Homo sapiens: one gene and its partners. The protein of the gene in region 1 interacts with the protein of each later gene in a biochemical or structural test. Each region holds a gene or a part of one and is shown in the gene's direction. Other genes may lie near its edges.

Region 1 (7,026 bases):
TCATCAAAGCTTGGACCTACAGCAAATGAATGTGAATATATGAAGATTTCTCTTTTCCTAGACTGTTTAGACTGATAGCAGTTAATAAATGAGTGCCTATTTGAGCAAGATACTGTTGGAATTGAAGATTCTATAAAAATCCTAGGCTACATATATAAAATATTGCCTGTGATTCTTAATTTTTTGGTGATTTTCAATTTTCTGGCACATTAAGTATCTTTAGGCCACTTGACACATTCCATTGTATTCCTAGATTCTTTGGGTCTTCAATTAAAAATCTCCCTACCCTGTTCTTTCCCCTTTGATCCATAGATGCAGGCATGGAATGTGTTGTTGAGTCAAATGTTAGGGGTTCTTGCTATAGTTAGTTCGGATTGTGAATAGAAAGCAATGCTAAGTACTGGGATTTACTACATGCTTAGTTGTACTCTCTGGAAGAGGTAGACTTCCTGGAATTATGCGGCAGTCTCCTGGGAATAGCTTCTAAGTTTAAAATGTATCATATTCTTCAGAATTTTCTTGATGGTCAGTTTACCCAGCTTAAAGTGTGTGGTTAATTTTAGTGAAAGTGCTTTCACTCTGATTAGGAAATAAGACACAGAATGGTGTGTATGTAGAACACAATCATTTTCATTTGAGTATTTAGGAAAATTCACATTTCAGGAACCATGGTAGTTGCTCTTGAACAATTGTTTCTGACCATAATTGGAATTTGTACCTTGCTTTTAAAAGATTCCATTTATATCGAATCCTCAGCTTCTTTGCAAAATTGTTTTTTCCATACATATGTTTATATGTTATTCAAATTATATTTAACAAGGTGTTTTCCCTGTCATTGTTACCGTTGTGGCTTTTTCTCTTTGAGTTATTGTCCAGTAGAACTTTCTTCAATGATGGAACTGTCTACCAGCTACATAGGGATATTGAGCACTTGAAATGTGGCTGATGTGACTGAAAAACTAAATTTTTGCTTTAATTTCTTTTTAATTTAAATGTAAATAGCCACATGTGACAATTGACTCCTACATTGGACTGCACAATTATAGGCCATGCTGATGTGTTTTGTAAGTTTGAAGATTTATCTCACCACTCATGTTTATGTATTTAGAATATTTCGTTAGCTAAAATTAAAACACTCATTGTTCAAAAGTTTTAACTGAATACTGTCTGTCTTGGAAAGTGGTGGTGATGAACAATGACTAGCAGCAGACTTCTTGAGACCTTATTATGTGCTGTAAATTTGGCTAGGTACTTTCAGATCTTCACTCAATCCCCCCAGACACCTTTCTAAAAAGTGAGACTCATAAAGTAGTGGGAATGCTGTCCGAATGGGATGTGTACCTGAGTCTTCTGACACAAAATATTTCAAAGAAATTGGATAATTGACCTTAAAAAAAGAAGTTATACAGTATCCTAGAGTGCTTTTTGTCTGTTGGACTTAGGCCCAGAGAGGTGAGTTCTCTCTACTTGTTTATAGATTAACAATGTGGTATAGTAGACAGAACAGGGAGGGCTTTAGGGGTTGTTGAAACAAATGCTGTCCAATAGAAAAATAATATGAGCCACATACTTTTTTTTTTTTTTTTTTTTTTTTTGAGACAGAGTCTCACTCTGTCCTCTGTCACCTAGACTAGTGTGCAGTGGTGCGATCTCGGCTCACAGCAACCTCCACCTGCCAGGTTCAAGTGATTCTCCTGCCTCAGCCTCCCAAGTAGCTGGGATTTTAGGTGTCTGCCACCATGCCTGGCTAATTTTTCCATTTTTAGTAGAGATGGGGTTTTACCATGTTGGCCAGGCTGGTCTTCAACTCCTGACTTCAAATGATCTGCCCACCTCGACCTCCCAAAGTGCTGGGATTATAGGCATGAGCTGCTGCTCCTGGCCTCATATAAATAATTTTTTAAGTTTTCTAGCAGCCATATTAAAAGTGAAAAAACATAAAATTAATTAATTTTGGGTTTTTTTGGTAGAGACAGAGTCTTGCTATATTGCTCAGGCTGGTCTCAAATTATTGGGCTCAAGTGATCTGCTCGCCTTGGCCTCCCAAAGTGCTGGGATTACAGGCGTGAGTCACCATGCCATGCCCAGATAAAATTAAATTTAATATATTTTATTTAACTTGGGATATGCAAAATATTATTTCAATATGTAATCAGTATAAAATTTACTAATGAGATACCTTACATTCTTTTTCATACTAAATTTTCTAAATCTAGTGTGTGTGGTTTTTTTTTCTTTTTTTTTGAGACAAAGTCTCACTCTGTCGCCAGGCTGGAGTGCAATGGTGGATCTCGGCTCATTGCAACCTCCGCCTTCCAGGTTCAAGTGATTCTTCTGCCTCTGCCTCCCGAGTCGCTGGGACTACAGGCGCGTGCTACCACGCCCAGCTATTTTTTTTTTATTTTTATTTTTTGGTATTTTTAGTAAAGATGGGGTTTCACCATGTTGGTCAGGATGGTCTCAATCTCTTGACCTCGTGAAATGCCTGCCTCGGCCTCCCGAAGTGTTAGGATTACAGGTGTGAGCCACCGTGCCCGGCTATGTATATTTTGTACTTAGAGCATATATCAATTCAGACCCTATTTTCTTTGGAAATCCTGGTCCGTATTTAGAGTTCATAAAATTTACAGTTAGAAAGGCAGATTTGGGGCTGGGGGTAGTGGCTCATGCCTGTAAACTCAGCACTTTGTGAGCCAAGGTAGGAGCATTGTTTGAGCCCAGGAATTCAAGACCAGCCTGGGTAACAGAGTTAAGACCTCGTCTCTATATTAAACAAACAAAAATGAAGAAAAAGGAAAGCAGATATGCAATACTTCAGTGATCCCAAACATACTTAAGTTTTCCAGTAATTGAATCACTTACTGGTTATTATTTAATTTTAATTACTTTAAAATTACGGTAACCACATTTCAAGTGCTCATTATGGTATGTAGGTTGTGACTTGTGGTTACCATATTGGACAACACAGGTTAAGTCTAACCTCTTGCTTTTTTTTCTCTGGGAAATGGGCATACTTATCTCACAAAGTTATTATGAGGATCTGAGATCATGTATGTGAAAGTACTTTACGTAGCATTTTAGGAGCATTAATTATTGGCTAAATAATTTTTGTCCAGTACATTTTATTCAGGTATCTCAACCAATGACACAATATTCATTTACAGATCCAGTGTTTTATGGTGTATAAGTATTTGGGGTTAACACATTTACCTAAGATTTGAGTACTTACTGCAGATGAGGAACTGTGTTAGACTCTAGGGACAAGGTGGTAAACAAGATGGACTACACCTTGCATTCATGCTTCCATTGATGAGTTGGCAAAGGCTGTACACTTGTTATTCCAACCATTGATGTTGTCTACTTGATTGTGGATCTTTTATGTGTTCGAACATTTGATATTGTGCACAGTTTAATACAAATATTGATATGATACAAAGTTGATTACACTCTGAAACTGCCCCCCAAAAAGAAACTTTTAAATAAATCTTTTATTATGTTCCACGAGTCTCATTGTGTGCCACTGGTACATTTTAAATTAGGGTTCCTTGAACAGACATATTTGAAAAAAAAACTTAATGAATCATATCGGATAAAATACCCATATGGAATGCCGGTCAGGCGATTGTTAGAGTTATTGTATGTGTTGTATGTGTCCTTTTTTAGGGTGGTAGTGTTGAAGTGAATCTTCTCACTTAGATGAGCAGTAGGTTCATGGCTGATATTTTAGTCCTGTATATTAGAATGAGGCTGTTTCTCTAAGTTCATGCACTATATGCCATGCCAAAACTACTTCATGAAATAAACCTGTCTTCTGAGCCACAGCAAAGTTTACAGCTCTGGGTGTCTTGTCTTTGCTTCTTGGTTAAGTGCCTATGGCTAATGCTCTTAACTCAAAAGATGGCTGAAAGCTTGGACCTAAATGTGTTATGCAAAACCCATCTGTCAGACTTTTGTGAGTCTCTTCTTTTGTATTATCTCCTTAAATTAAGACATAATTTAAGATATTTTTGTCCTACTTTTTTTGGGGGGTGGGGACAGGGTCTCACTCTGTTGCCCAGGCTGGAGTGCAGTGGCATGATCAAGGCTCACTGCAGCCTTGACCTCCCTGGGCTTAGGTAATCCTCCCACCTCTGCTCCCTAAATAGCTGGGACTACAGGCGTGCGCCACCAAACCCGGCTAATTTTTGTATTTTTTTTGTAGAGTCGGGGTTTTGCCATGTTTCCCAGGATGGTCTCAAAATCCCGGGCTCAAGCAGTCCACCTGCCACAGCCTCCCAAAGTGCTGAAATTACAAGTGTGAGACACCAAGCCTTGTCCTATTTTTGAGGCAGTAACTATTCAAATCTTAATTGTCCTGTAATCTAATCCATAAAATCAAAATACATGGGCCATTATAGTTGTTTGAGCACCTATTACGTGCCAAGAACTGTATTAAATATTTAATGTTTATTATCTCATTTAATTAGCAAGAGAACCCTTGTGCTTAGGTCAGATTAGCCTTATTGTAGAGATTGGGCAACTGAAGTTCATAGTAGGTAACTTTTAGAGTCACACAGCTAGTGAGCAGTCAGACTTTTAATATTTATTCTTTCATTTGGCTCATTGCCTCATTTGGTAAATGGTCTGTATCATTTGAATTGCAAAATGTACCACAATTGTTTATATCTATGCTGTGATGTTCTTTGATTCTAGTAGTACTGTCGTTTGTTTATCGTGAAATATTTTTTATATTATGAGAAAAGTAGGAGACAGCAAACTAACATCTGACTTTATGCCTTGAATGATTATTTAGCTGTATCTTTTTTAAGGACTTTATCCTGTTTCCTATTGGAAAATTGTGCAGGATGATTGGGATCCGGTTAACTTGTAACCAGGATTGTCTGCATCCCTCTCATAAGACTGAACTTGTCACACTTTTCTATAGACTTTTTCTTACTGAAAAGAATGAGTGTGTTCCAGTCTGAAGCCACTTGTGAAAGGAGGAAACTTCTGCTTTCTATTTTACTGTAAATTCATGTTTTTGTGTTTATGCCAAGAAATAGAAGCTTGAACTCAACGAAGGCAGTTGTGCATGAAAGGGATAGGAAATGAAGGTGACAATGGAATATATTTGCTCATTTTGAGTAGCATCATGGTAGAAAGGAAAATGGTTACAGACTTGTAGGGTTGTGCTTTGGAGGCAGACTGCCAGTACTGTTAATACTTCTTGTTCCTAATCCTTAGGTAAATAAGGATTTTCTTCAAGTTCTGAAGTAAGACGGTTTTAAAGATTATTGCTGAAAGAATAGGAACCAGATCCATTAAAGCCATATTTTGTCACATTAAAAAACTCTGCAGTGTGCTATTCTGGAAAATGTCTCAGATGTTTAATCTGGGCTTATCTATTGATTATGTCAGGTTTTCAACTTGTCTCAACTTCCTCATTTATTAAAACAATATTTCCTGGCAATTTTAAAGTTAGACTACAGTATGTTTTTGTATTTGTAGTATAATATTTAGCCCCTTAACCCCTTACAGGCACTCGAATATTAGTTCTTCCCCTCCACCCTGGAAGAGTTTCCCTTTGTCCACTTGAGTTGAATATATGTGCCGTACTAAAGGAGAAAAACTACCATCTACCCAGTTATTGAAGCCAAGATCTTGAAGTTACACCAGACTCTCTAATTTCTCATTTTCTGCATCCGTCGATTTCTGGAGTTCCTCAGTGATGCACACTGGGGGTCTCAGGGATGACAGTTTTTCATGACCCTAGGTTGAAACTGGGAGTCATAGAAGACGAAAAAACGAGAATTGGATTGGGAGTTGACTCTGTTGCCCAGGCTGGAGTACGGTGGTGCAATCTTGGTTCACTGCAACTTCCGCCTCCCAGGTTCAAGCAATTCTCCTGCCTCAGCCTCCTGAGTAGCTGGGACTACAGGGGCCCGCCACCAGGCCTGGCGAATTTTTTTTGTATTTTTAGTAGAGATGGGGTTTCACCATGTTGGCCAGGCTGGTCTCAAACTCCTGACCTCAAATAATCTACCCTCCTCAGCTTCCCAAAGTGCTGGGATTACAGGCGTGAGCCATCGTGCCTGGCCAACTTGCATTTATTTCTGATTAGCTGCTCATCTGAGAAAGGTGGCTTAAAAAAAACCACCAAAGTGGACAGACTGAAGCTAAAGACTGTCAGTATATATGCTCTGCTTGGCAAACAGCTGACTTTGGATAGATCTCATTATTTAAAGATGAATAATAAGGGGGAAAAACGTGTAGAGAGAACATGGTTTACAAAAACCCATCTCTTTCTCCAGTCTCTGCAATATTCTATATTTGGTCATATTGAACTATGAAAATCTAAGGCAGGTTTCTTTATTTTACCACAGATATCCTCAGGAAAGAGTCTCCTTATTAAAAGCCTTACTGAATCTCCATAGTATTGTGTCCTCTCACAGTTGCTTCTGTTCTGAGCACCAGAATGCTGTTTGGCAAAGGCTGCTGTAGGCTTGAAATCAACTGGATTAGTGAGAGACAAATTTTACACATCTAAAATTCTCCTGTGTATGGCCTCACAGTTGGAACTGTTGGATGTTATAAGCAGATGATTTAAATATCCCGTGAAAAGCAGTCCATTCGGGCATGTTTCTAGAGATCATAATTTTTTTTTTTTTTTTTTTTGAGATGGAGTCTTGCTCTGTCGCCCAGGCTGGAGTACAGTGGCATGATCTTGGCTCACTGCAACTTCTGCCTCCCGGGTTCAAGCGGTTCTTCTGCCTAAGCCTCCCAAGTAGCTGGGATTACAGGTGCCCGCCACCATGCCTGGCTGATTTTTGTAATTTTAGTACAGATGGGATTTCACCATGTTGTCCAGGTTGGTGTTGAACTCCTGACCTTGTGATCCGCCTGCTTTGGCCTCCCAAAGTGCTGGGATTACAGGCATGAGCCACCACACCCAGCCTAGAGATCATAATTTACATAGAAAGATAAGAGAAAAACAACTCTCCTGATAACGCAAATAGATTTGATGTTACAAAACTGCACCATTATGAT
Region 2 (7,026 bases), on another chromosome or scaffold:
TGAGAATATGATCCCAGTAAAACATTTTATCCCATAGCAGTATATGTATGGATTTCAATTCTTTTTAGGTGGCTGCAAAATTCGGGTTCAGGGGGACTGGATCAGAGAGCGCCGCTTTGAAATCCCTGATGAGGAACACTGTTTGAAGTTCCTCTCAGCTGTCCTTGCTGCTCAGAAAGGTAACTAAAGACTCAGCGATTTTCTTTCTTCTATTTCAACGGGAGTGGAATTCTGACATGCTGATACAGAGGAAAGTGGCCATTGGCAAAATACCTCACCCTTTAAGCCCTGATAGCTGATTTTTTTTTCTTCAGGAGTGAACACAGGGATAGGTTAGGGAAAAAATCTGCCCAGCTTTAAGGACACTAGGCAAGTTTTCAGAATATTCAGTGTCATGGCAAGCACAGCTTACCATAGACTATAATTCTCCTTCTGCCCCTAGATGACCCCAGAGCTGCCCTCATTTCCTTAGTTTCTTCCACTGTATCCAAAAATGGTGCTGGCCCCTGCATATAAGGAATGTTGAAAGAATGGCTTTTGGCTATAGTAAATTCTACTCAGTGAAAGACTTCCCAGTTTCTGACCATGAACCTTATCTCTCTAGCTCAGTCACAGCTTCTTGTTCCAGAGCAAAAGGACTCATCTAGCTGGTACCAGAAATTAGACACTAAGGACAAACCTTCTGTTTTTTCAGGTACTAAAAAGTTCCTGGTTTCCTTGTTGCTATGGTCATTGCAGAGTCAGTAGATTTTGTCAGGCCAAATATGGTGATGTAGATTAAAGCTGATGTCAGACACATTCTCCTGCAGAGTAGTTTTATCAAGTCCAGGCCCACTGACCAGTGTTCACTCCTTATCCTTCCTGTAGCATGGTAGCTGTTCAGGAGCCAGCTTAGCAGGGTGGTAGAAAGTACAAGCTCGAGAGCCAGACAGCCTGGATTTGAATCCCAAGTCAAGAACTTACTAGTTGTACAACCTTCATCAAGTTACTCAACAACTCTGAACTTCCCTTTTCCTTTCTGTAATATGGGAAGATTTTTAATAGTACTTACTTCTTGGAGTTTTTGTGATGATTAAGTGAGATCATGATATAGTCCCTTACTCTCAACCAGGCATTGTGCTCAGTCTTCAATAAATGTTAGCTATTACTAGTCTGTTCCAAGTTCTTATAAACTTCTATTGTTCTAGTTAGTATATCAGTGCTTCAGGGATAGGTATGCTTCTTCGAACTCCAATCCAAGTAATTTCTACCCTTATGATAGTTTTCTGTTTAGTAATACCACTGATCAAATTGTGATCAAATCAAAGCCCTGTTACCCTGGATATGTTGGATGTTAGATTTTTTCCCCGTTTGACTTTGGGGTCTGTGTCTTTCAGGGCTTCTTGGATTTGAAGACAATTTTTCTTCTATGAATTTGGACAAGAAAATAAATTCACAAAATCAGCCTACTGGGATTCATCGGGAACCCCCACCTCCACCCTTTTCAGTGAATAAAATGTAAGTCCCATGTGAAAACATATTTGCCTTGTAGGAGAATTATAGTTTAAACAATTTTACTTTTGAATCTCTCATTTATTTGCTAGGCTTCCACGTGAAAAAGAAGCTTCTAACAAGGAGCAGCCCAAAGTGACCAACACCATGCGGAAGCTCTTTGTACCAAATACCCAATCTGGGCAGCGGGAGGGTCTCATCAAACATATCCTGGCAAAGCGAGAGAAAGAATATGTCAACATTCAGACTTTCAGGTTAGTGTCTCTTTTGCTTCCTGAGTCTAAAAAGTTAGTATATATAACAGACAGTGGCCTGTTGATATTTAAGACATTAGCCTAATTAAGAATCAAAATATGATAAAAAGGAATGGTTGCCTGTTTCAAGCTCCTGTCTCTATGCTGGCCAATAACATGCATATCAGAAATAATGCAGATGCTACAGTTTCCCTTGGATTTTCTTTTTTTGTGTGTGTGGGTCAGGGTCTCTCTTTGTCACCCAGGCTGGAGAGCAGATAGATCATGGCTTACTGTAGCCTCAACCTCTCAGTCGTAAGCAATCCTCCCACGCCAGCCCTGCAAGTAGGTGGAACTACAGGTGCACACCACCACATCCAGCTAATATTTGTGTTTTTTATAGAGACTGGGTTTCACCAGGTTGCCCAGGCTGGTCTCAAATTCCTGAGCTCAGGCAATCCACCCGCCTTGGCCTCACAAAGTGTTAGGATTACAGGCTTGAGCCACCGTGCTTGGCCTTCCCTTGGATTTTCTAACTACTAATAATGCCATGTCTACTAATGTCTCTACTGAGTCCTAGAGAACCAAATCAAGGTCACATGTACTAGAGAATTTTCCCCTAGCACATTCCATAAGCAAGCGTGTTTATATATCTGGCCTGTTAAGTTTTTTTTTTTCAGCCAATATTAGAAAATTAAAGTCCATCATTACCACTAGCTCTTAACTTACTTACTTTGGTAAATAAAGAAAGTTTCACCCAGTCCTCTTGATTGGGAGGTCTATCTTGGGTTCTTTTATCTGTATTATTTTTTATTTCATCTTTTTTCTGGACTTGTGTGTGTATGCTGCATGTGAGGTACCATGTGGCATGTATCGCCAATGCATGAAGCAACACCACATTTCTTTGTTATTCATGAGCAGAATGTACCCTTCTAGTCCAAGATTCTAGTCCCATCTGCTATCCTGTCATACCTCATTTATTCTAATTCAGTCATAACTATATCCCTATGCTAAAACTTGCAGTTCCTCATATCCCCCACTATGCTTATATTTGTGTGTAAACAGTTAAGACAGTCATGAGTTTTCCCTTCTGCTTTCCCCCTTAATACTATGTCTGCCTCATCAGAATTTCCTACACAGATGTCCTTGTAATCCTTCAGGAAGTGAGTTCCTGGAGTCAACTATAGCCCCTTATAGAACATTTATCCATATTTGACTAGCTTACAGCATGAAGATACCTCTTTCCCATCCATAAGCTCTCCTATCAAGTATGAGTTTGGATGGAGCTTAATTGAAAGGAAATGTGGTATAGCAATTACCTTTGCATTTTTTAAAAATAAAGACTTGGTTTCCTTCTGTAGTTTTACTTAATGTAAAATTTAGAGAAAATAAGCCCACTGCCTTTGTGTTCTAGATGCAAAAGATCTTTCTTACATATGTGGCAAAACATTTTGAGGAATTATGTTAGCATATTGTGAACATACCTTTGTATGGAAGCGAAAAGAAAGAACTTCTGTTGGTTTATACTTGATCTTTGTTTTCAAATTATCTTTTCGTATTATGTATTAGATTTTTTGTTGGAACTTGGAATGTGAATGGCCAGTCTCCAGATAGCGGGTTAGAACCTTGGCTGAACTGTGATCCCAATCCTCCTGATATCTACTGCATTGGGTAAAGAACACTTCTGGAATTTCCTTTTGGCTATATGTTTGGTGTTCATTTACATGATGTTTTGCCTTTTTTAAAAAAGACTGTTGGTAAAACCTACTGTAGACTATACACGAGAGTTAACTTGCGGGTCAAATTTGTGAGAACAGAAATGAACAGATACCTAAAATGGTGTAAGGAAGCATCTAATTTTCTTGAAACCCGTAGGAATCTATATATTCTGCATAGAAACTAAGACTTGGGGTCAGTTCTAACAGTGACAGTTCCTAGGATATAAGAGCAAAGCTCTGCTGTTATCCTCTGTGGGAGGTATTTTGATTTATTTTTTGCATAGCTTATGAATGTACTTGTGGGAATTCTTTAGAAAAGAAAGCTACTTGTTCTTACTGATAACCTGGGTGAACAGAGCAGTTCTATAAAATTTATCTCTCTCCCATCTTTTTTTCATCTAATGTTTCAACATATGGGACAGGAGGTAGCCAGAGATAATTATGGGATATGTATAGATCTCATATCCCTTTTTTCCTCAGATTCCAAGAACTGGACTTGAGCACAGAAGCCTTCTTCTACTTTGAATCTGTGAAGGAACAAGAATGGTCCATGGCTGTAGAGAGAGGTTTGCATTCCAAAGCCAAGTATAAGAAAGTAAGCCGCATTTAATTATCTTTTTAAGTGTATGACTAAATAGGGCTCACCGGGAGTTATTCCATTATCTACAACTTGTTCCAAAAGAATAGTTTAATTGAATTCTTCTCTGTGTGTAATACTGGGATAGGGCAGATTGATCATTCATCCTTATTTCCTAGAAAAAAAAATCCCTAAGCTTTCTGATACTATATTTTCATTGCTTAGATAGCTTTTAGGGGAAAAAAGAATTTTATTATGCTTATATCAATACTTAGTTTGAAATAATTACATATAAGATTTAGATTACTCACTGACATGGTCAGAATTGAATGCTTTACAGAAAAGCAATATGAAACGTGGGCGCATGGTGCATGTGTTGCAATCAGAGCAAGAATAGAAGTGGTGTGGAATTTGAACGAGTTCTAAACTTGGTTTTAAGTTAAGAGGAGAGTTGACTTTAGCAAGATGGGCCAATTTGTTTGTCTTTAGAAGGTATGTGGTAAAGGCATTTAGCTACCAGAAGAGTTAATTACAGGGCTATCATACTAAGGTCTCTAAAAGAAGTAATGTGAGTAATTTTTCTCTACATCTTCTAACAGTTTATATAGGTAATAAAACTCCTGGGGATGTTATTCCTCTCATATAGGTCCCTGACTAATGTATATCTCAGACATATTTCTAGCTGTAGTTCACAAGTTAAAAATAAGTAAAAAAGATTGCTGTTTGGTTGATTTCAATTTCTTAGAAAATTAGACATCAGAAACTAGGAAGGAAAGGTGGAAGGAACAAGCTGGGATAGTGGCTTTATTATTTGAACTTTTAATGCTGCTTACTCCTGGTAGGCTAAGAAGTGATTAAAAGAATAGATCTAGAGCTGAAAGTACTCATTGTCCCTCCCAGCTTTTAACTCTTATTGGTCAGTGCCAGATTAGAGCCTCCCCAGAGAATATTAGTTTCCACTTGACGGGGTCCACTGAGAAATTAGAGGATATGAAGTCAGATTTGGGCACTAGTATATCATCTTGATGGAAAATTAGTCGTGGGACATTAGAAATGTGGCAAAGATTGGTATTAACATTAACCTTTTGTAACTCCCCGGAACTCATAGGTTCAACTGGTGCGCCTTGTTGGGATGATGCTTCTTATATTTGCCAGAAAGGATCAGTGTCGATACATTCGTGATATTGCTACAGAAACAGTTGGAACTGGAATCATGGGGAAAATGGTGAGTTACTTTGGAAATGAGCTTGATTATTATTCATGTTCATGTAAAGTTCAGTTGCTTGTTCTGTGTACTAATTGAATAATTACTCTTGCTAACAGGGAAACAAAGGTGGGGTAGCTGTGAGATTTGTATTTCACAACACCACCTTTTGCATTGTCAATTCCCATCTGGCTGCACACGTGGAGGACTTTGAGAGAAGGAATCAAGATTATAAGGACATTTGTGCGAGAATGAGTTTTGTGGTCCCAAATCAGACCCTCCCGCAGTTGAACATCATGAAACATGAGTAAGTGGTTAACTCACCTGTAGCCTTTGAGTAGTGGCTACAGGAGTTTGGATAGTGTAGAGATTAAATGTGAGATACTGTAGAGCTGTGAAGAGTGAAAGATTACCAGTGAGGGATTGGGGTCACAAAGGAGAGGGTTTTTGAGTAATAACAGAATCATTGAGGCAGAGAAATTAGACTTGATATCAGAGGAAAAGATAGTTCTATTAGTGGGGCACCTAGAATAATGCTGGAGGGTCTGTAGTTGGAGTCAGTTTTTATTGTTTTTATGATAAAATAGAAATATTCATTGCAAATGTAATAAAAGATAAAATTAGAAGTTAAATTTCCTCATTTCTTATTCTCTACCTAGCCAGTCCCTCTCTCCAAAGGAAACCATTCTTAACAGTTGGGTGTGTAGCCTTTTAGATCTGTACTGTCCAATATGACAACCAGTAGCCATATATGGCTGTTAGGTACCTGAAAGTGACTGGTCCAAATTAAGATATGCTGTATGCATAAGCTATATATTGGATTTTAAAGACTTAGGAAGAAGATGTACGATATCTTGATTTCTAAAATATTGATCACATGTTGAAATAATTTGGATATATTGAGTAAAATGAAATTTATTGATACTCACTTGTTTTTTTTCTTTTTAAATGCAGCTACTAGAAAACTTAAAATTATATTGTGAGGTGCATTATAATTCTATTAAATAGCACTATTCTAGCCTTTTGTCTATTCATATACAAACACACACATAGGTACTTGGTGTATAAGACTGTATTATTCTATTTATTGTGGATTCCTTTCCAAGCCAGTATATATAGATCTACATTATTCTTTTTAATGGCTGTGCTTATTAAAAACAGGGGCAGCAGAGAGAGGTCAGTGAAGAATGGGATTTAATAAGCATAGAAGCAGAGATGTGTTGAGGAGTAGATGTGGTGGTAGAAAATGATTAGTTTTAAAGAAATTAATATACCTAAAACCATGAAAACCCTAGAAGAAAACCTAGGCATTACCATTCAGGACATAGGCATGGGCAAGGACTTCATGTCTAAAACACCAAAAGCAATGGCAACAAAAGCCAAAATTGACAAATGGGATCTAATTCAACTAAAGAGCTTCTGCACAGCAAAAGAAACTACCATCAGAGTGAACAGGCAACCTACAAAATGGGAGAAAATTTTCGCAACCTACTCATCTGACAAAGGGCTAATATCCAGAATCTACAATGAACTCAAACAAATTTACAAGAAAAAAACAACCCCATCAAAAAGTGGGCAAAGGACATGAACAGACACTTCTCAAAAGAAGACATTTATGCAGCCAAAAAACACATGAAAAAATGCTCACCATCACTGGCCATCAGAGAAACGCAAATCAAAACCACAATGAGATACCATCTCACACCAGTTAGAATGGCAATCATTAAAAAGTCAGGAGACAACAGGTGCTGGAGAGGATGTGGAGAAATAGGAACACTTTTACACTGTTGGTGGGACTGTAAA
Region 3 (7,026 bases), about 55 Mb from region 1:
CAAAAAAAAAATTAGCCAGGCATGATGGCAGGCACCTCTAATCCCAGCTACTCAGGAAGCTGAGGCATGAGAATCGCTTGAACCCAGGAGGTGGAGGTTGCAGTGAGCTGACAGCGTGCCACTCTACTCCAGCCTTGGTGATAGAGTGAGACTCCATCTCCAAAAAAAAAAAAAAAATACAAAACATAGCCGGGCATGGTGGCTCACTCCTGTAATCCCAGCTACTCAGGAGGCTGAAGCAGGAGAATCACTTAAACCTGGGAGGCGGAGGTTGCAGTGAGCTGAGATCGCACCACTGCACTCCAGCCTGGGCAACAGAGTGAGACTCTGTCTCAAAAAACAGAGTATTACAAGAGATGACACATTTGAAACACTTGGAACAGTGCTGGGCATGGAGTAGTCACTCTGAAATGTTAGCAGCATTACCATCTTCATGATATGGCTGGCATTGTGCTGGAGATGCCTAAATTAATAAGGCCTCTGAGGCTCACAGTCTGAGGAGGGAGGGAGCTAACTATCCTTGTGTGCTACCACACCACAAGTAAAACATAAACAAGGTGTGACAGGAACCCAAAACAAGGAGCGACCAGGGTCTGGGCTGGGTCAGCTTCCTAAAGGCTGGGCCTTAAAAGACAAATAGGCTTTTAAGCTCTTGAGGTCGGAGTTGGGGACAGTTGGAGGTGAGTAGAGTCGAACTTGGGTAGGGCCTGTGGTAGAAACTATCTGAGGGCCAAAGGCCAGGGTCATTGCTCTCCTATATGCTCCAGCTGTCAGAGCTGTAGACCAGATGGAAAGATGGTTAGGTCTTATCCAGACACTGTGGCTACCTGCCCATTCGGGTCCTCTGGGAAGAGCCTGGGTGGTTCCTAGGGCAACCAGTGGCCATTACTGGGGAGGGAAGGGGACGAATGAGGGTGGACAAGACAAGGGGCATTTCCCCTTGCCACCACGTTAGAAATAGGAAGGACCTTCCGGGAAGAAGGGTTCCCCTTGCCACCACGTTAGAAATAGGAAGGACCTTCCGGGAAGAAGGGTTCCCCTTGCCACCACGTTAGAAATAGGAAGGACCTTCCGGGAAGAAGGGTTCCCCTTGCCACCACGTTAGAAATAGGAAGGACCTTCCGGGAAGAAGGGTTCCCCTTGCCACCACGTTAGAAATAGGAAGGACCTTCCGGGAAGAAGGGTTCCCCTTGCCACCACGTTAGAAATAGGAAGGACCTTCCGGGAAGAAGGGGAAAGGGGCAGAGCTGGGCAAAGCCCCACAGCCTCAGGCAGGAGGCCTGGGTGAGCACTGCTTCTCAGGCCTGGGAGGGAGAGGGTCCTGGTGTGGGGTCCCTGCTGAGTCTGAGGGAGGCAGTGGGGTTTCCCTTTCTGTTTTGTTAGGGTCTTCAAGAAGTCGAGCCCTAACTGCAAGGTGAGTCTCCACAGCACTTACCCTTTTGACCCTCCCTGGGCCCCAACAAAGCCCAGCCTTCCCCTAGACGATCCCCAACCTACCCAAAGATGATCCCCAACCCCTAGCTCCCCACTTCCTGTGACAGCTAAGCGCCGACTTCCTTCCCTCCTGAAGCCCCTTGCCGCAGAGGCTGCTCAGCCTGAGCCAGCCACAGGGCTGGGTGGGGCAGGCTTGGGTCCCCAAGCAAGACCACAGAGGAGGAGGCCAAAAGCAAGCCATGTGCCTGTAGCCCTCCTAGGAGCCAACCCAAGGTGCGTGGGGCTGGGAAAACCTAACAGCCCCCGGGCTATGGCCTATTTATCCTAGAGCCCCTTGAGGGGACCTAGTGAGGGTGGCAGCTGCTCTCTAGCTGGCTGGTTGGGCTGAGTTCTCCCCGAGGATCCAAACACACACACACACAGACACACACACACATACACACATACACACACACCTGGCTGGTTGGGCTGAGTCCTCCCTGAGGATGCAAACACACACACACGGACACACACACACACACACGGACACACACAAACACACCTCGCTGGTTGGGCTGAGTCCTCCCTGAGGACACACACAGACACACATGCACATACATGTTCACACACACACCTGACTGGTTGGCTGAGGACACACACACACACACACACACACACACACAAACACACACACACCGGGCTGGTGGGCAGAGGTGTGCAGAGATAAAGGAGCAGCTCAAAAGCCTAAAGGTCCACTAGTCTGAGAAACGCCACCACCCTCACTTTCCAACACTATTGGGAGGAAACCTGGAACAACTCCTTCCTGATAGCCCAGCCTGGAGATCCCCGGGCAGGGCAGCCAGTTTTGAGGGCTCCGATGCCCTGTCACCATCCTCCCCAATCTCCCCTGTGACCCCTTGACATCCTCAGCTCACCGTGTACTTGGGCAAGCGGGACTTCGTAGATCACCTGGACAAAGTGGACCCTGTAGGTAAGTTTTCCCAGAAAGGGACAGCTCGTTCCCCAAGAGGGGAAGAAGTTCCCGGGCCCAGGAAAGCGGGGAGCGGCCCTTTCAGGAAGTGAGCTGGTGTGTCCCCCTCCTAGATGGCGTGGTGCTTGTGGACCCTGACTACCTGAAGGACCGCAAAGGTACTGGCCCCAAGTCCAGGGGGCCCAGGGAAAGTGGGGGCTAGGGAAGTGAAATGGGCTGGCCTTGGAAGGGCGCCCCAGAGAGATGGAGGCTGGAGGTGGAAGCCAGGAGTAGGGTTCAGGCAAGTCTTATGCTGCTGAGGGAGGAGCAGCGGCTGCTAGGTGCCAGGGGACTGGGGAAGTGGGGCTCCTGACCACTCATCTCACCCTCCCTTGCCAGTGTTTGTGACCCTCACCTGCGCCTTCCGCTATGGCCGTGAAGACCTGGATGTGCTGGGCTTGTCCTTCCGCAAAGACCTGTTCATCGCCACCTACCAGGCCTTCCCCCCGGTGCCCAACCCACCCCGGCCCCCCACCCGCCTGCAGGACCGGCTGCTGAGGAAGCTGGGCCAGCATGCCCACCCCTTCTTCTTCACCGTGAGGATGCCCCTGCCCTCTGAGGGCCAGGGGGCTGGGGCTGGGACTGTGTCTGGGGTGGGGGTAAGGCACTGCTGTGGGCAGATCTGGAAGAAACAGTGAGGCAGGGACCCTAGATCCACTTCCCTTCAGGGTCCCAGTGCATTCAGGAAGCCCTTGATTATCTGCCTCCTCTCTGGGGCCCCTTCCTTCTTCCCTTCTCATCCCCAGGAGTCCTTTCTCCAGCCTCTTTTTTGTTGTTGTTGAGACAAAGTCTCGCTCTGTCGCCCAGGCTGGAGTGCAGTGGCACAATCTTGGTTCACTGCAACCTCCGCCTCCCAGGTTCAAGTGATTCTTATGCCTCAGCCTCCCGAGTAGCTGGGATTACAGGCACGCACCACCACACACGACTAATTTTGTATTTTTAGTAGTGATGGGGTTTTGCCACGTTGGTCAGGCTGGTCTGGAACCCCTGACCTCAGGTGATCCGCCCACCTTAGCCTTCCAAAGTGTTGGGATTACAGGCATGAGCCACCACACCCAGCGTCTCCAGCCTCTTAGGTTGAGATTTGGAGGAAGATCTGGGGGCTTTCTGGAAGAACTGAAGTCTTCTCCTTCCTCCGCCACAGATACCCCAGAATCTTCCATGCTCCGTCACACTGCAGCCAGGCCCAGAGGATACAGGAAAGGTACGGGAGGAACAGCTCTGAGGGCTCCTAGGGCAGGACATGGGCCAGCAGGAGCCTGGAGGCACAGCTGAGCCAGAGGGTGAACTGTCGAGATGCCAGGGTGGGGCCGAGGGTAGGCCAGTGTCCCCCGTGGAAGTGGGGCGTATGTGGTGGTCATTGTGCACGCATGACACTGCCTCCTGCTCTGTGGACCCGCATGGATCTGGGGATGGGGGCTCCCCTTGCACTACCATGACCAAGCCTCTGCCAGGTTCTGGGCTTTGGAGAGGAAGAAGACTTAGTCCCCAGGGTCGTGAGACCACAATGAGGCAAGAGTCCCTGCCCGAGAGGAGGGAAGGGGGAGGAAGAAAGGGCAGTGATGGTGGCGGGAGCCTCCGGTAAGATGTGGCCTTTTCTCCCCTCCCCGAGGCCTGCGGCGTAGACTTTGAGATTCGAGCCTTCTGTGCTAAATCACTAGAAGAGAAAAGCCACAAAAGGTAAGGGAAGTGACCTCCTCTGTGGTGTAAGAGGAGGCTTTCCTCCCCGCTTCCAGGAGCCCAGGCCCCGTGCGGGGGAGGAGTAGGGTTGGGGTGTGTGAGGAATGACCCCTCCTGCCCCTACTCTGATCCCAGGAACTCTGTGCGGCTGGTGATCCGAAAGGTGCAGTTCGCCCCGGAGAAACCCGGCCCCCAGCCTTCAGCCGAAACCACACGCCACTTCCTCATGTCTGACCGGTCCCTGCACCTCGAGGCTTCCCTGGACAAGGAGGTGGGGCGTGAGAGGGTGACACGGATGCCACGGTGCAGTTTAGACCCTGGGGGAGGGGCGAAGCCACACATCAAGAGGACATTTGTAAAGGAGGTTGCCTTGGCTGGGTGTGGACAGTTGCCGTGGGCTTGGGTTTGAGGGGAGGGGGCCAGAACAATGTGTCTGTGTTTGGGGACACACTGATGATGGGAACAGTGAAAACCAGTTCCAATTCACATGACCCCCTCCCCCCAAAAGCTGTACTACCATGGGGAGCCCCTCAATGTAAATGTCCACGTCACCAACAACTCCACCAAGACCGTCAAGAAGATCAAAGTCTCTGGTAGGAGGTGGGGTTTGGAAGGGGGTCTTCGGGGAGGGCGTTACTGCACAGGTGGCTCCTGGTGTGATCTCAGCCCAGGCCATTTCCCAGTGCGGGAGACCCACCAGGGCTCAAAGAATTTAGGTTGTTCCATAATGATACGGGGAGCCTCGGTGTTTACTGCTTCAGTGGGGAGCATGGGGGGGCCACGCCACGGGGTCTGGAGTTGTGGTGTGGTGGTGGCTTGTGCTCCATCCAGAGCTGCCTGACCCCGTCCCACCCCACAGTGAGACAGTACGCCGACATCTGCCTCTTCAGCACCGCCCAGTACAAGTGTCCTGTGGCTCAACTCGAACAAGAGTGAGTATCGGGAGAGACCCATGTTCCAATCTAGGGGAGAAGAGCAGGATCAGGAGAATGTGAGGTGGAGGAAGAATTCTTCCTGAGCCATCTCCACCTTTTTTTTTTTTTTTGAGATGGAGTTTTTGCTCTTGTTGCCCAGCCTGGAGTGCAATGGGGCAACCTCTGCTCACTGCAACCTCCACCTCCCGGGTTCAAGCGATTCTCCTGCCTCAGCCTCCCACGTAGCTGGGACTACAGGCATGCACCACCATACCCGGCTTATTTTTAATAGAGACGAGGTTTCACCATGTTGGCCAAGCTAGTTGCGAACCCCTGACCTCAAGTGACCCACCCGTCGCGGCCTCTCAAAGTGCTGGGATTACAGGCGTGAGCCGCCGCGACCGGCCACCATCTTCACTTAAAAGGGTATTCCCTCCACAGCCAGGCTCCAGGCTGTTAATTTTCTTGAGCACGTTGAGCCAAAACCTACTCCCTTGTGACCTGTGCCCAAAGAAACAAGGGACTAGTGAGGGGGAGATGCTGCTTGGGGGTCATAGGCCGCCCCTTGCCCAGCCCAGCGCCCCTAAGCATCTTGTTCTCTTGTCCCCACCCCCAGTGACCAGGTATCTCCCAGCTCCACATTCTGTAAGGTGTACACCATAACCCCACTGCTCAGCGACAACCGGGAGAAGCGGGGTCTCGCCCTGGATGGGAAACTCAAGCACGAGGACACCAACCTGGCTTCCAGCACCATGTGAGGGTGGGGCTGGGGCGGGTCCCCTGCAGGCCAGGGGCCAGACGTCGGTTCAGTGCTCTATCCTAGTGTGCCAGGGATGTATCAGTGAACAGAAGAGACAAAAAGAACTCTTACATTCTAGGGGAGGGAGGATAGCCAAATCTGATCAGTGGTCACTGTACAGCAGGTTTAGTGACAAGTATGAAGGAGAAAAAGCCAGGCAGAGAAGGAAGGGATGGGGGGCAGTGAGGTGCGAAGGTGAATTCGGAGTAAGGACCCAGCGGAAGTAAGCAATGTGGGTGAGCAGGAAAGGAGGGTTCTGGGCAGAGAGAAAACAAAGACTCAGAGGTGGGGCAGCCTGGGGTGTTGGAGGAATGGGGAGGTGCCATCGTGCCCTCGGGCAGGAGCAGCCCTGGAGGTCCCCAGCTTCACAAAGGGCTGGATTTCACCTCTCCGGATGCCTTTGTTCAGGGTTCTCACTGCACAGCCACACACAGCAGGCCCGGAGGGCAACTTAGGGAGAAGAACTAAGTACCAGGAGAGGAGGAGGAGGTGAGGTCAGGGGCTAATGGAGAGCCAGACGGTGCAAGGCTGTTAGCGGAGAAGGACGTCAGCTTTTCCTGGAGAGGAGCCAAGGAGGCTCTGAGCAGGGAGTGCAGTGCGCACTGTACCATAACCGCACGGCCTGGGCTGCTGGGGCCCTGGGGGCCTGTGCGAGTTTGTGGTCCTGCCCAGAGTCCCCGTGGGAACCCCACGGTGGGCCAGGTGACAGGGTGATAGGCCCTGGTCTGACTCCAACACCCTCAATTGCAGCGTGAAGGAGGGTGCCAACAAGGAGGTGCTGGGAATCCTGGTGTCCTACAGGGTCAAGGTGAAGCTGGTGGTGTCTCGAGGCGGGTGAGTGTCATGGGGGAGCCTGGGTGGGGGTCACACTGGCTCTCTCTAGTCCCATGTCGTCGTCCTCTTCACGATGCCTCTCCCCTTCCCCAGGGATGTCTCTGTGGAGCTGCCTTTTGTTCTTATGCACCCCAAGCCCCACGACCACATCCCCCTCCCCAGACCCCAGTCAGGTGAGCACACTACCCACCCCAAGCCCTCAGAGGGAGGGCCTGAAGCAGGGCCAGTGGAGGAAAACTGGCCCTTCCAGCACCCACCCCCACACCCCCTCTTCCCGTCCCCCCAGCCGCTCCGGAGACAGATGTCCCTGTGGACACCAACCTCATTGAATTTGATACCAAGTAAGAAACTCATTC

What was found. Proteins that work in one complex are often made in the same cells at the same time.
Region 2: the proteins of CLTC (region 1) and OCRL form a complex in vitro, tested with the Homo sapiens proteins (2 studies listed by BioGRID and IntAct, with this or other methods).
Region 3: the proteins of CLTC (region 1) and ARRB2 form a complex in vitro, tested with the Homo sapiens proteins (3 studies listed by BioGRID and IntAct, with this or other methods).

Annotation. Positions count from the first base shown.
Region 1 is NC_000017.11:59,622,885-59,629,910, forward strand, and holds part of CLTC (clathrin heavy chain 1), read left to right. Parts: intron 1-7,026. UniProt on the Homo sapiens protein: Clathrin is the major protein of the polyhedral coat of coated pits and vesicles. Two different adapter protein complexes link the clathrin lattice either to the plasma membrane or to the trans-Golgi network.
Region 2 is NC_000023.11:129,557,257-129,564,282, forward strand, and holds part of OCRL (inositol polyphosphate 5-phosphatase OCRL), read left to right. Parts: intron 1-68; coding exon 69-179; intron 180-604; coding exon 605-694; intron 695-1,376; coding exon 1,377-1,497; intron 1,498-1,583; coding exon 1,584-1,745; intron 1,746-3,293; coding exon 3,294-3,395; intron 3,396-3,922; coding exon 3,923-4,037; intron 4,038-5,127; coding exon 5,128-5,244; intron 5,245-5,342; coding exon 5,343-5,530; intron 5,531-7,026. UniProt on the Homo sapiens protein: Catalyzes the hydrolysis of the 5-position phosphate of phosphatidylinositol 4,5-bisphosphate (PtdIns(4,5)P2) and phosphatidylinositol-3,4,5-bisphosphate (PtdIns(3,4,5)P3), with the greatest catalytic activity towards PtdIns(4,5)P2.
Region 3 is NC_000017.11:4,713,630-4,720,655, forward strand, and holds part of ARRB2 (beta-arrestin-2), read left to right. Parts: intron 1-1,357; exon of another isoform or gene 1,358-1,383; coding exon 1,384-1,414; intron 1,415-1,556; exon of another isoform or gene 1,557-1,707; intron 1,708-2,343; coding exon 2,344-2,404; intron 2,405-2,517; coding exon 2,518-2,562; intron 2,563-2,782; coding exon 2,783-2,979; coding exon of another isoform or gene 2,980-3,042; intron 3,043-3,587; coding exon 3,588-3,647; intron 3,648-4,055; coding exon 4,056-4,123; intron 4,124-4,258; coding exon 4,259-4,394; intron 4,395-4,631; coding exon 4,632-4,716; intron 4,717-4,982; coding exon 4,983-5,055; intron 5,056-5,653; coding exon 5,654-5,791; intron 5,792-6,586; coding exon 6,587-6,670; intron 6,671-6,763; coding exon 6,764-6,843; intron 6,844-6,920; coding exon of another isoform or gene 6,921-6,956; coding exon 6,957-7,011; intron 7,012-7,026. UniProt on the Homo sapiens protein: Functions in regulating agonist-mediated G-protein coupled receptor (GPCR) signaling by mediating both receptor desensitization and resensitization processes.